Linked DNA regions of Homo sapiens: region 1 is linked to region 2. Evidence: fine-mapped expression QTL. A gene starts in region 2. The other region holds a variant in brackets. All regions are shown on one strand. Distances are between the middles of the regions.

Evidence for each region.
Region 1: its variant is fine-mapped to the expression of ADAM23 in whole blood (TOPMed, PIP 0.91).

The regions. Positions count from the first base shown.
Region 1 is chr2:206,522,493-206,527,875 of GRCh38, forward strand. All of the region lies in intron 3 of ADAM23 (ADAM metallopeptidase domain 23), which reads left to right. Among named protein-coding and RNA genes, the nearest start is that of ADAM23, 82 kb to the left of the region's middle. The variant TC/T (reference allele first, on the strand shown) is at 2,862.
Region 2 is chr2:206,441,045-206,446,427 of GRCh38, forward strand. ADAM23 (ADAM metallopeptidase domain 23) reads left to right here and starts at 2,488. Exons shown (of 26, transcript NM_003812.4): 1 at 2,488-3,036; 2 at 4,263-4,480. The coding sequence starts at 2,823. RefSeq lists a silencer at 2,933-3,062.

The DNA.
Region 1 (5,383 bases), 81 kb after region 2:
AAAAGAGTTCTTTTCCTAGAATGTGGCAAAAACTGGACTTGGAAGAGAGTAGTTTCTTCTGTACAAGGTTACCAGAAGGCAAAGCTGATCATGGATCCTCTTCTGTTCTCTGCAATTTCTCTATGTGTGATGCTTGCTTTATAGTTATGTTAATAAATATTGGATGTATCAGAAAAGAAGCTGGATTAGCAATAGTCACCAACTACATTCATTATTAGCTTTGAAATTTGTTCATCATAGCATTTCAGTGATGTGTAACTATGTGCAGAAGATAGGCCTTTTTTATTTGGATCCAGTTTTCCTTGTGTTTAATTTTTTTTTTTTTGGTTTTATGACATACGGGGGTAAAACTAGATTGTGAAAGTAACCATGATTCTGTCATAAAGGAATCTCAAAATTACTGGAAACTTGGAGAGACACTGGTAGCCACAACTAGAAATGTGTTATCCACTTCATATGGTCGAGCTTTAAGTTAAGGGGAAGAAACGAAACATCTTTCATCTTTTATTTAAAGATTTTTCTTCTGATACCACCCTCCTCAGAAGGGAACTCTCACTGGCTTTTAGGCTGATCAAGCCAGCTGAGTGAGGGTTCTCAGCTTTTATATCACCTCAAGTCTCCTAACTCTTTGTTTCTCCACTCTACAATTAGCTTGCAGGCCTGCCTATGTTTCCTGTCCTCATTATACTAGGGTTTTCTAAACTTTATTATGGCTAATGGGACCATTACCTGAGATGCAGGAGTACCTACACATTTACATTTCCACTGCAATCTCTCATATGGTTTAGGAGATCATTAAATTTCTCTTGTTACCCCCAAAGAAAAACCTCTATAACCTATTCATGCTAGGAACATTCTCTGCCTGCAGTTCTGTTCCTATGAAATGTGCCCACACTTACCAGCCCTTGCCGGGCATGCCATCTTTGTCTGACTTAACGCAAAGCCTCTATGCAACCTATAATTATTTTCACCCACTTAATATATCATTGCTACATGCTTAAATCCCAGCCTCTCCATGTCCTCGATCTTTTAACGTAGCTTAAAATTCTTACTGTATTGTTTACACTCAAAGGAGTGTATATTTTTTAGCTGAAACAACTTTTGGTATGAAAACTATTTTAGGTGGTATGAGTCTATTTTTTTTTTAAAACTTTAGAAAAGTAATGGTTGAAAAATTGTTATACTTTTAAAGTCTTCTGTTACAAAAAGAAAAGAAATATAAGAGCAAGCATAATTGTAGGATACAAGCTTATGTTTATATGAATGTATTGAGTTTAAATTTTGTGTCTGCATTACCACTTACAGTAATTATCTAGTGAATTTAAAATATCTTATGTGTATAAAAGGACAAAACAGAGAAGCTTCTAATGGAAAGAGGGAGCGGGCACGATGCTTCACTGTGGCTTCATGGAGCCTTGGGCATAACAATGTCACTACGCTCGAGGCTCCATGAAGTTGAGAGTCTCCGCAGTGACAGCATTGGTTGTCATTAAATGAATGAAATGTGTACCTGGAAGGAAGGGGTGGTAGGAGACTTCTTGGATGAATGTCAGCGCTCATTTAGGTGTGATTAGGGCTCCCAGTACTGAGAACTTAAGTACTTTCAAGCAGCAGATAATCAGATGACTGACTTTGCATGAGAAATATGGGCATTTGTGGTACTCCTTTTCTAGATATCATTTAATTTTTCTACTGTTTGTTTAACTTCTGTTCCAGTCCCAATTTGAACACATATGGAAGTAACTTACATGTTTTACTACTGAGAATTGAATTAGGGTATTTGTGCTACTGTTTACTTAGGAACAAAGATGTATGGCAAGGTGCATGGCTAGTCACCACCTGACAAGTTCAGTGTCTTGCAGTGAATGTGATCTCATAGCTTCCTGACTTCCACAACTTACACTGCTGACTCCTCTTGCCCAGATCCACCTACTGATGTTATGCACTGAGAGAGCCTAAGGCACCTACTCAAGGCTTTCCTAAAACAGTGGCTGTATTAGTCCATTTTCACTCTGCTAATAAAGACATTCCCAAGACTGGGTAATTTATAAAGAAAAAGAGGTTTAATGGACTCACAGTTCCACCTGGCTAGGGAGGCCCCACAATCATGGTGGAAGGTGAAGGGTATGTCTTACATGGTGGCAGACAAGAGAGAATGCGAGTCAAGTGAAAGGGGTTTCCCCTTATAAAACATCAGATCTCGTGAGACTTACTCACTACCATGAGAACAGTATCAGGGAAACTGCCTCCCATGAATCAGTGATCTCCCACTGGGTCCCTCCCACAACACGTGGGAATTATGGGAGCTACAATTCAAGATGAGATTTGGGTGAGGACACAGCCAAACTGTATCAGTGGCCATGTGAAGTATGATGACAGAACCCAAAAGCAACTGGAGGAGAGGACATACTCACAGACTGTTTGCTTACTAGAATCTCAGCTTTTGAGTATTTTCCACCTTGTAGACCAACCTGACCTTCCATGTAGAACTCGATGTGTATACCTTAAATTTGGCCTTTAGGTAGGGTGACCATATGCCCCAGTTTTCCCAGGATAGCCCTTCCTGGTTTATGTATGTCTGTTGTCCTGGCACAATTATTAATATGCCTCTTTTCATTTCCACAAATGCCCTAGTTTGGATGATAAATTATATGGCCATCCAGTTGTTAGGCCTTGGTGCTTGCTACTATTCATCTAGACTTTTTTTTACCTAGTTCTGCTGGTGAAGAAATGCTGTGTGGGCCTCTAGGTTCCTTCAGACAAGCTTGTTCTCAGCAACTCACTCAATTTCCTAGTTAGAAATAAACTGAGTGCTTAATACAAAATTTCAGAGAATACAGATTTTAAAACTAGAAAGGACT[TC/T]CAGAGACTGGTAGTTCAACCACTTTTTACAATGAAGTAAATGATTTTAAGTCATGTAGAAAAAATGATTTCCTTTGTGGTCCAATGTATATCTTTTCTAGTAGCCTTCCTCATAGCCCAAGGCCCAGTTAGCCACGTCGTCTTGTTCTGAACAATTGTTTTCTTTGATCAGCCTGCCCTTAAACTTTTCTGACCAGAATTACTCCAAAGAGAAGCATATTTTTGTTTGTTTGTTTGTTTGTTTTGTTTTATTCTGAGACAGAGTCTTGCTCTGTCGCTCAGGCTGGAATGCAGTGGTGTGATCTCGGCTCACTGCAACCTCTGCCTCACAGGTTCAAGCAATTCTCCTGCCTCAGCCTCCTGAGTAGCTGGGATTACAGACGCTCACCACCACACCTGGCTAATTTTTGTATTTTTAGTACAGATGGGGTTTCAGCATGTTGGCCAGGCTGGTCTCAAACTCCTGACCCTGTGATCCGCCTGCCTCAGTCTCCCAAAATGCTGAGATTATAGGCATGAGCCACCGCGTCTGGCTGGTTCTTTGTTTAAAGTAAGGGGTTCAAGTTATTTTCCAAAAAAACTGGATCTACTCTTCTTGGTTAATAGCTTTCCTAGATACTAGGGAATCTTGGTACCTAACTTTTCCAATTATTAGAATCCTTGGCTTCTCCATATGGAACTTCCTTGTAATGGAAGATATAAACTTTTGGGAGTTTTGACCACATGGCTGTTTATGTGTCTACTTACATTAGAAACATGAATCTCATATTCAAGGATTCCAACAAATACACACACACACACACACACACACACACACACACACACAGACACACACAGACACACGTCTATACACATACATATAAAACTTTCCTGAGGTAAATCTCTTTTTGTGAATTTCCAATTCCTAAATATAATAGCAGCTCTGCTTGTATAGTTGCTGATGATTGTGAAATTCTTTGAACATAGATTTCTAAAAGATATTTGTGATAAATCCTGAAATTAGGACAGTTTAGACAATGTTTCAGTGACAAACATGAAATCTGAGACTTCAGCACTGTAAAATGTTATCTCTTCCCCACACTGCGATATAGTGCAAGTTGAGTAGCTCTTTTAGACAGTTCTTCTCCAAATCATGATGAAAGGGTCTAGGCTGCATTCATATTTCTGTTATGCCATCTGGAGCATGTGGCTTCCAGGGTTGCCATGGAAGAGAGGGCTTAGATAATCCTGCAGGGATTTTAGTGGTCACACTAGAGGGGCAGACATCACTTCCTTCATGTCTCATTAGCCATGATCCATTGTCTTGGCCCTAACCTAACTGCAGCAGAACCTGCAAAATGTGGTCTTATCAGGATGCCAGGAAGGGGAAAATGAAATAGCATTTGGTGGACACACAGCATTATTTCTGCCACAGTTCCCTTCATTGACCTGATTCTTGGCTCATTTGTCATGTTTCAATAGTTTTATATTCTCCTGCTCTTACATGTTCTTCATATTTTGAGTAAAATCATATTTAGTCTCATTCTAGAGTTCCTAGAGTTTTCACCACTTTAGTGGTGCAGATTCACCATGAAGGGCAGAGTGAGTGGGTTCAAGAGTTTCCTTGTTCTAGTTCTTCCACTTTCTTTCACTGGCTTGAACTTCCATCCTACGTTTATTCATTTACTTATAAAGGTCACTCCTCTTTCAACAGATAACCTGCATGAGAAGCATGGGAGTAGCCAGAGAATACAGCTTTTCTGTAGCTTCAGTGATTGAAAAAAGATGTTTATTTTAGAATTTAGGATGTTCAGAGTTTGCCCACAAGTTGTTAGCATCTTCAGAACCAAACATCCAATTGGCTGATCAACAAAGTAAAATGCCAGTTTATATTTGGGTCCGCAATTGCTAAATAGATGAGTATTAGCATTTCAGAACATTCTGTTTCCAACAGGAAATTGTATTAGGACTACAGAAAGCAGAGGTGGAGGAAAGGACAACTCATCTTCAGGCATGTGGAGACATAGATTACCGGTTCCTTCCTGGCTGGGTGGGGCTGGAGACACCACTGCACAATCAACTATTCCCTTCTCCCTTTTTAGTGTTTCTTGTCCATCATCAAAAATTACATTTCACTATTATTTCAAGACTTTTATAATTAATTAGGTTACATTTCAGTTGATGTAATTCACTCTCAAGGAGATTACAAAATAATATTTTTGAGTGAGGTGATCAATCTTGCACATTTGTGCTGATTTTGCTTAGTTTCAATTTGAAAGTTGCATTTTTCACCCTGTTTCCAAGCCCCTATAGCAGGTGTTGGTAGATGTTTGCTCACTCAGCAGATATTGATTAAGGGCCTACTATGCATTAGGCATTATGCCAGGTGCTAGGGATACTGTGATGAGTGGAATAATTAGTTTCAAGGGAGGCTGGCTGTGGTCAGACAGAAGGAAAGAATGGAGTAAATGGGGATGTGTGCTATTTACAGGAAGTAGAAGAGTGGACTGGCATGGTGAGGAGGGGCATATGGTGGTGTATT
Region 2 (5,383 bases):
TTATTTAATCAGTTAATATTTGATTCTGTTTTTAACCTTCCCTTAAATATATGGCTTAAAGACTAAACTTCCAGTAAATTTTTTCTAAGTAATGTACTCTTTCTCTGACTCATTATTTCATTTATTGATATCTTATTTTGACTCTAGCAATGTCTGTAACCATTAAAGTTCTGTAAATAAATGCAGTCTTTTGACTATAGTACATAAGACAACATCCCTCTTTGTAAATACCCCAACCCCTTATTAGAAACTATATTGAGGCCAGGTGCGGTGGATCACGCCTGTAATCCCAGCACTTTGGGAAGCTGAGGTGGGTGGATCACCTGAGGTCAGGAGTTTGAGAACAGCCTGGCCAACATGGTGAAACCCCGTCTCTACTAAAACTACAAAAATTAGCCGGGTGTAGTGGCACGTGCCTGTAATCCCAGCTAATCCCAGCTACTTGGGAGGCTGAGGCAGGAGAATCGCTTGAACCTGGGAGGCAGAGGTTGCAGTGAGCTGAGATCGCACTACTGCATTCCAGCCTGGGTGACACAGCAAGACACCATCTCAAAAAAAAAAAAAAAAAAAGAAAAAAAGAAACTATATTGAATCCTCATTCCATACCCCAAGTGCATGAAATGATGTGTTGTAACTGGTGGGTGGGTTTGGTCAGTCCAGGTTGGCTGATAGGTTTATTTATCAGAACAGACTTTAAGAGGTTGTCACTGAATTGCAAGAGATGCCTTTCAAGTAACTTGCATCTGGGTGCTTTGCACCTTTCATTTCCCTCTCCCTTCTCATTGCTTGTACATCTCCTTTCTGGCTTGCTTTCTCTCAGGCCCTTTTTCAGGATGCATATTGTGTCAAATATAAATTTGGAAAACCTAGCCAGAGAATACTTGACTTGAGGGAGACAACCCTAAGAACATTGACCTGCAGTGGGCACTCCGGTGGGGCTAGAGTGTTCACTAGCCTGCCCCAAGTGTGACTTCTGCTTGTGTGTATCACCCATTTCTTTATTCATTTAGTACATATTTTCCAAGCGATTTCTCTGTGCCTCAGACACTGTGTGAGGTCCTAGGGACACAATGGTGTGCAGAAGGGAAAACTGTTGTTGCCCTCACATGGGGGAGGTAGCAACAATTACAAATTTACAGGAATAAATATGTGATAATAATATCCTAGCTCAACATAGAAAGGAAGTTATCTCAGTATTTACCTAACAGTTTTGTAATGTGTGTGTGCGCGCGCGTATATGTCTTCTTCTTTTCTCTTTGTTAAGTGTGAGTGGAGAAGATGATGGCTAACACTGAGTTCTGTCATGGCCATGGCACTTTTATACCCACATTCTTTCTTTTAATCATGGAATTCTCCACCCCAGCCCTCACCCCGTGGATGTCGGAGTAAGACAACATTGTTATCACTCAGATTGTCATTGGGAGGGTGAATAAATGAATGCTTGCATTATGAGAGTTTGGGGGCAGAAATATGCCACAGACTCTTATCTGAAGCCATCAGATTTAGTGGCTGCGAACCCACCGAAGTCAGGGATTTACATTTTTTACAGCAACGAGAGAAAACTTCCCCTTTCCTCTGCAGAAGTCAGGACTGGATCTCAAAAATAGAAATGTGTCCTCCTAAATGTGTGCCCATCCCCGTGGTTGACAAACAACGGATTTCCCAAGATAGCTGCCACACACTTGGTTTCTAATCTCTGTATTGCTTCCCCGCCAGAATGTCGAAGTCCTTCCCGAATATGCCCAGTCATACTTTCTGAACTTTTGAGCAAACACCGTCCGGCTTCTTGTGCTTTCCTCAAAGACCCCAGGCACCGGCAGGGAGGACACAGGCCGGGGCAGAGCGCCCCTGCGCGGGGGATTCCTGCCACTCCGCGCCAGCCTGCGGCGCAAACGCTCTTCTCAGCCGCAGTCCCACCCGCTGCTGGCAATCTGAATGAGGAGCCGCGCTATTTTTACCTCCCCGGCTGCAATCCTTTATATTTACATGCAGGAAGCAAATATATAAGGGATTAAGAAGGAGATGCGTGGCCTTAGTTTATCCAGAGCAGGAAGAGGTTGGAATAGGAGAGGGTATGTGAAGTCTGGGGTGGTGGAAAAGGCAGGTGGACTTCGGCTGGTTGTTTTCTCCCGATCATCCCTGTCTCTGGCCTGGAAACCCCCGTACTCTCTTTCTTCTGGCTTATCCGTGACTGCCGGCTCCCCCTCCACCGCCCCCATCTTTTGAGGTACCACCCGTCACCTCCGATGCTGCTTGGGCTGCTGCATCACTCTGCTGCTTTACCCCCTTCCCCGCCCCCCAACAAAGCATGCGCAGTGCGTTCCGGGCCAGGCAACAGCAGCAGCACAGCATCCAGCAACAGCATCAGCACCCGAAGCCCCGCTCGGGCGCGCTCTCGGGGGGCGGGGCGCACGCCCGCTCCGCGCGTCCCCGCGCCGCTCGCTCCCGCGCGTCCCCGCGCCGCTCGCTCCCGCGCGCCGCCTCAGCATCCTCAGGCCCGGCGGCAGCCCCCGCAGTCGCTGAAGCGGCCGCGCCCGCCGGGGGAGGGAGTAGCCGCTGGGGAGGCTCCAAGTTGGCGGAGCGGCGAGGACCCCTGGACTCCTCTGCGTCCCGCCCCGGGAGTGGCTGCGAGGCTAGGCGAGCCGGGAAAGGGGGCGCCGCCCAGCCCCGAGCCCCGCGCCCCGTGCCCCGAGCCCGGAGCCCCCTGCCCGCCGCGGCACCATGCGCGCCGAGCCGGCGTGACCGGCTCCGCCCGCGGCCGCCCCGCAGCTAGCCCGGCGCTCTCGCCGGCCACACGGAGCGGCGCCCGGGAGCTATGAGCCATGAAGCCGCCCGGCAGCAGCTCGCGGCAGCCGCCCCTGGCGGGCTGCAGCCTTGCCGGCGCTTCCTGCGGCCCCCAACGCGGCCCCGCCGGCTCGGTGCCTGCCAGCGCCCCGGCCCGCACGCCGCCCTGCCGCCTGCTTCTCGTCCTTCTCCTGCTGCCTCCGCTCGCCGCCTCGTCCCGGCCCCGCGCCTGGGGGGCTGCTGCGCCCAGCGGTGGGTATGGCCCCGTGCCCTTTGCGTTGGCTTTCCCGCGGGGCCCTGCAGAGGAAAGCGAAGGGCGCGCGGGTCCGTGTGCTCCGGGCTTGTCCCCGGCTCGGCCTTTCCTTCCCTCCCTGCCTGTCTTTCCACCCTTCTCGTTCCCAAACCCCCATTCATCCCAGTTCACTTTTGGAAGTCCATTTCTGTTGCATTCGCGAAAAACCCATTCCAATTCTTGTTGGTTCCACTGGGAGGTGTTTAGTGGATCCTGGGTCCCTCAGCGATCTCTGTGCAACTTGCGGAGGGGCAACCAGTGGATGGGAAATACAGCGAGGGAGCAAGTTGCTACTTGCGTGGTGGAACCTTAATGTGAATGCGGGGAGGATGTAGTGATAATAGTGGTAATGGGCTGTTTCCTCAAATTTCGTATCCGGCGCATTCAGTGCGGTTGGAATTAAGGTGGGGGAGGCACACTTCGGGGACCAAAGAATTAAGGTGCTGAAGACATACTTCATGCACGACCTTTGGTTCTGATTTCTCAAAGTGCTTGTCATTATAATGAACAATTAATATAATACCATCTTCTATATATTGATGATTGGAAGTCACTGAAAGCAGAAAGCTGGCTTTGTCAGGAAAATAAAAAGAAATTGGGAAGCTGCCAGCATCTGTATCCCTACATGGCAAAGTATGTTTGCTCATCTTAAAGTTAAAAGAGAAGGGAATTGTCCATTTTGTTAAAAGAGTCGATTAATATTCGGTATCCATAAATTCAGTACTCAAGTTATCTTAGGAGCGTTCTTAGCTCTTGGATGGGATGCCACTAGGCAGAGTAGAGTTGTGCTTCTGTGGACTCAGAGAAGGGGTGGAGATCGGGGGCAGGACCCCTGAACATGTTCATTTAATGACTCTTCTTCCCTCAAGTTCATTCTACCCCCCCCCCAACACTTAGAAGTATAGATTTGAGTCTGACTAGAAATGTATATATAAGACATAAATCAAAATAAATAGTGCACAGTTGTATAAGCCTTATTGGCTATTTATTAACTTCTCCAGGCCATTTTATTGTTGAAATAACTTGCTTTACTCTAGCTCTACTTCTTAACTGCTTATAAATAGAAAACTTTGTGTTTGAAATTAAAGGAAAAATGCATTTTAGTGCTTATGTATTTATGGGGTAAATATGTGTGTGTTTGTGTATGTTTGTATTTTCTGCTCCCCCACCCCCCTACCTCCACCAGCTCCGCATTGGAATGAAACTGCAGAAAAAAATTTGGGAGTCCTGGCAGATGAAGACAATACATTGCAACAGAATAGCAGCAGTAATATCAGTTACAGCAATGCAATGCAGAAAGAAATCACACTGCCTTCAAGACTCATATATTACATCAACCAAGACTCGGAAAGCCCTTATCACGTTCTTGACACAAAGGCAAGACACCAGCAAAAACATAATAAGGTAGGCAGGAGGCTGGCTATGCAAAAGTAACTATCATGAAGAGTTTTCCTTTGATTTGATTTTCTGCCAGAATCTGAGTTCACAAATTTTACTGCAGCATTTTATTAAGAAAGCAATTAATATTATGATAGGGGAGAAACTGGAAGGAATTAACTTGGGATCTACTGGGATAAGACTGTTGTTTCTCTTCTCTGACTAAACTGGAACTAGAATTTTCTGATACCTGAAATGATATCCATGTATCTTTCAGGTACATTGGGCACTGAACAGTAGTTAAGTGAATGTGTTTATGATTCTAACTTGTTTCTGTGAGGCTTTATGTAAGGGTGCAGTATTCTGCCTTGATATAAAACTGTCTCCCATGATATAAAAACTGCTTTCAATCTGCACATGCAAGATTGCTTCAAGAAGCTATTTGGCTGCAGTGTCTCCATCAGTCTTTCCACTTAGAAATTGAGTGTTTAAACAGTCTGTTTCTTTAATTGATCAGTAGGAGGAAAAAAAAATTTTCTGTTGTATTTTCAATAGGTAAACAATTTGACATTTAAAAAGATTATGGTGACTAGACACAAATTATTTGCATAATATGAAGACCAATTTTGATTGGCATAATTCTTCAGTACCTACTCTGCATTGATTATGAGCAGTTGCTTTACTTTCAGGTTAGTTCAGAAAGTGGAACTGATATTTACCAAGGTATCAGTAGAAGACAAATGTTTAATATCCAAAGAGTTTAAGGGATCTTTTTCCCTGTGTTACTATTCTTTACTTGAATTAATATTATTTTGAACCCCGAGCAGATTTAAACAATGGATTATCGGTTCTTCTGTTGTTTATCGGGAGCAGAAAATAGAGTCTGTATGTTAAATGTTTCATTTTGATCTGTACTTGTTCAGGTGAGAA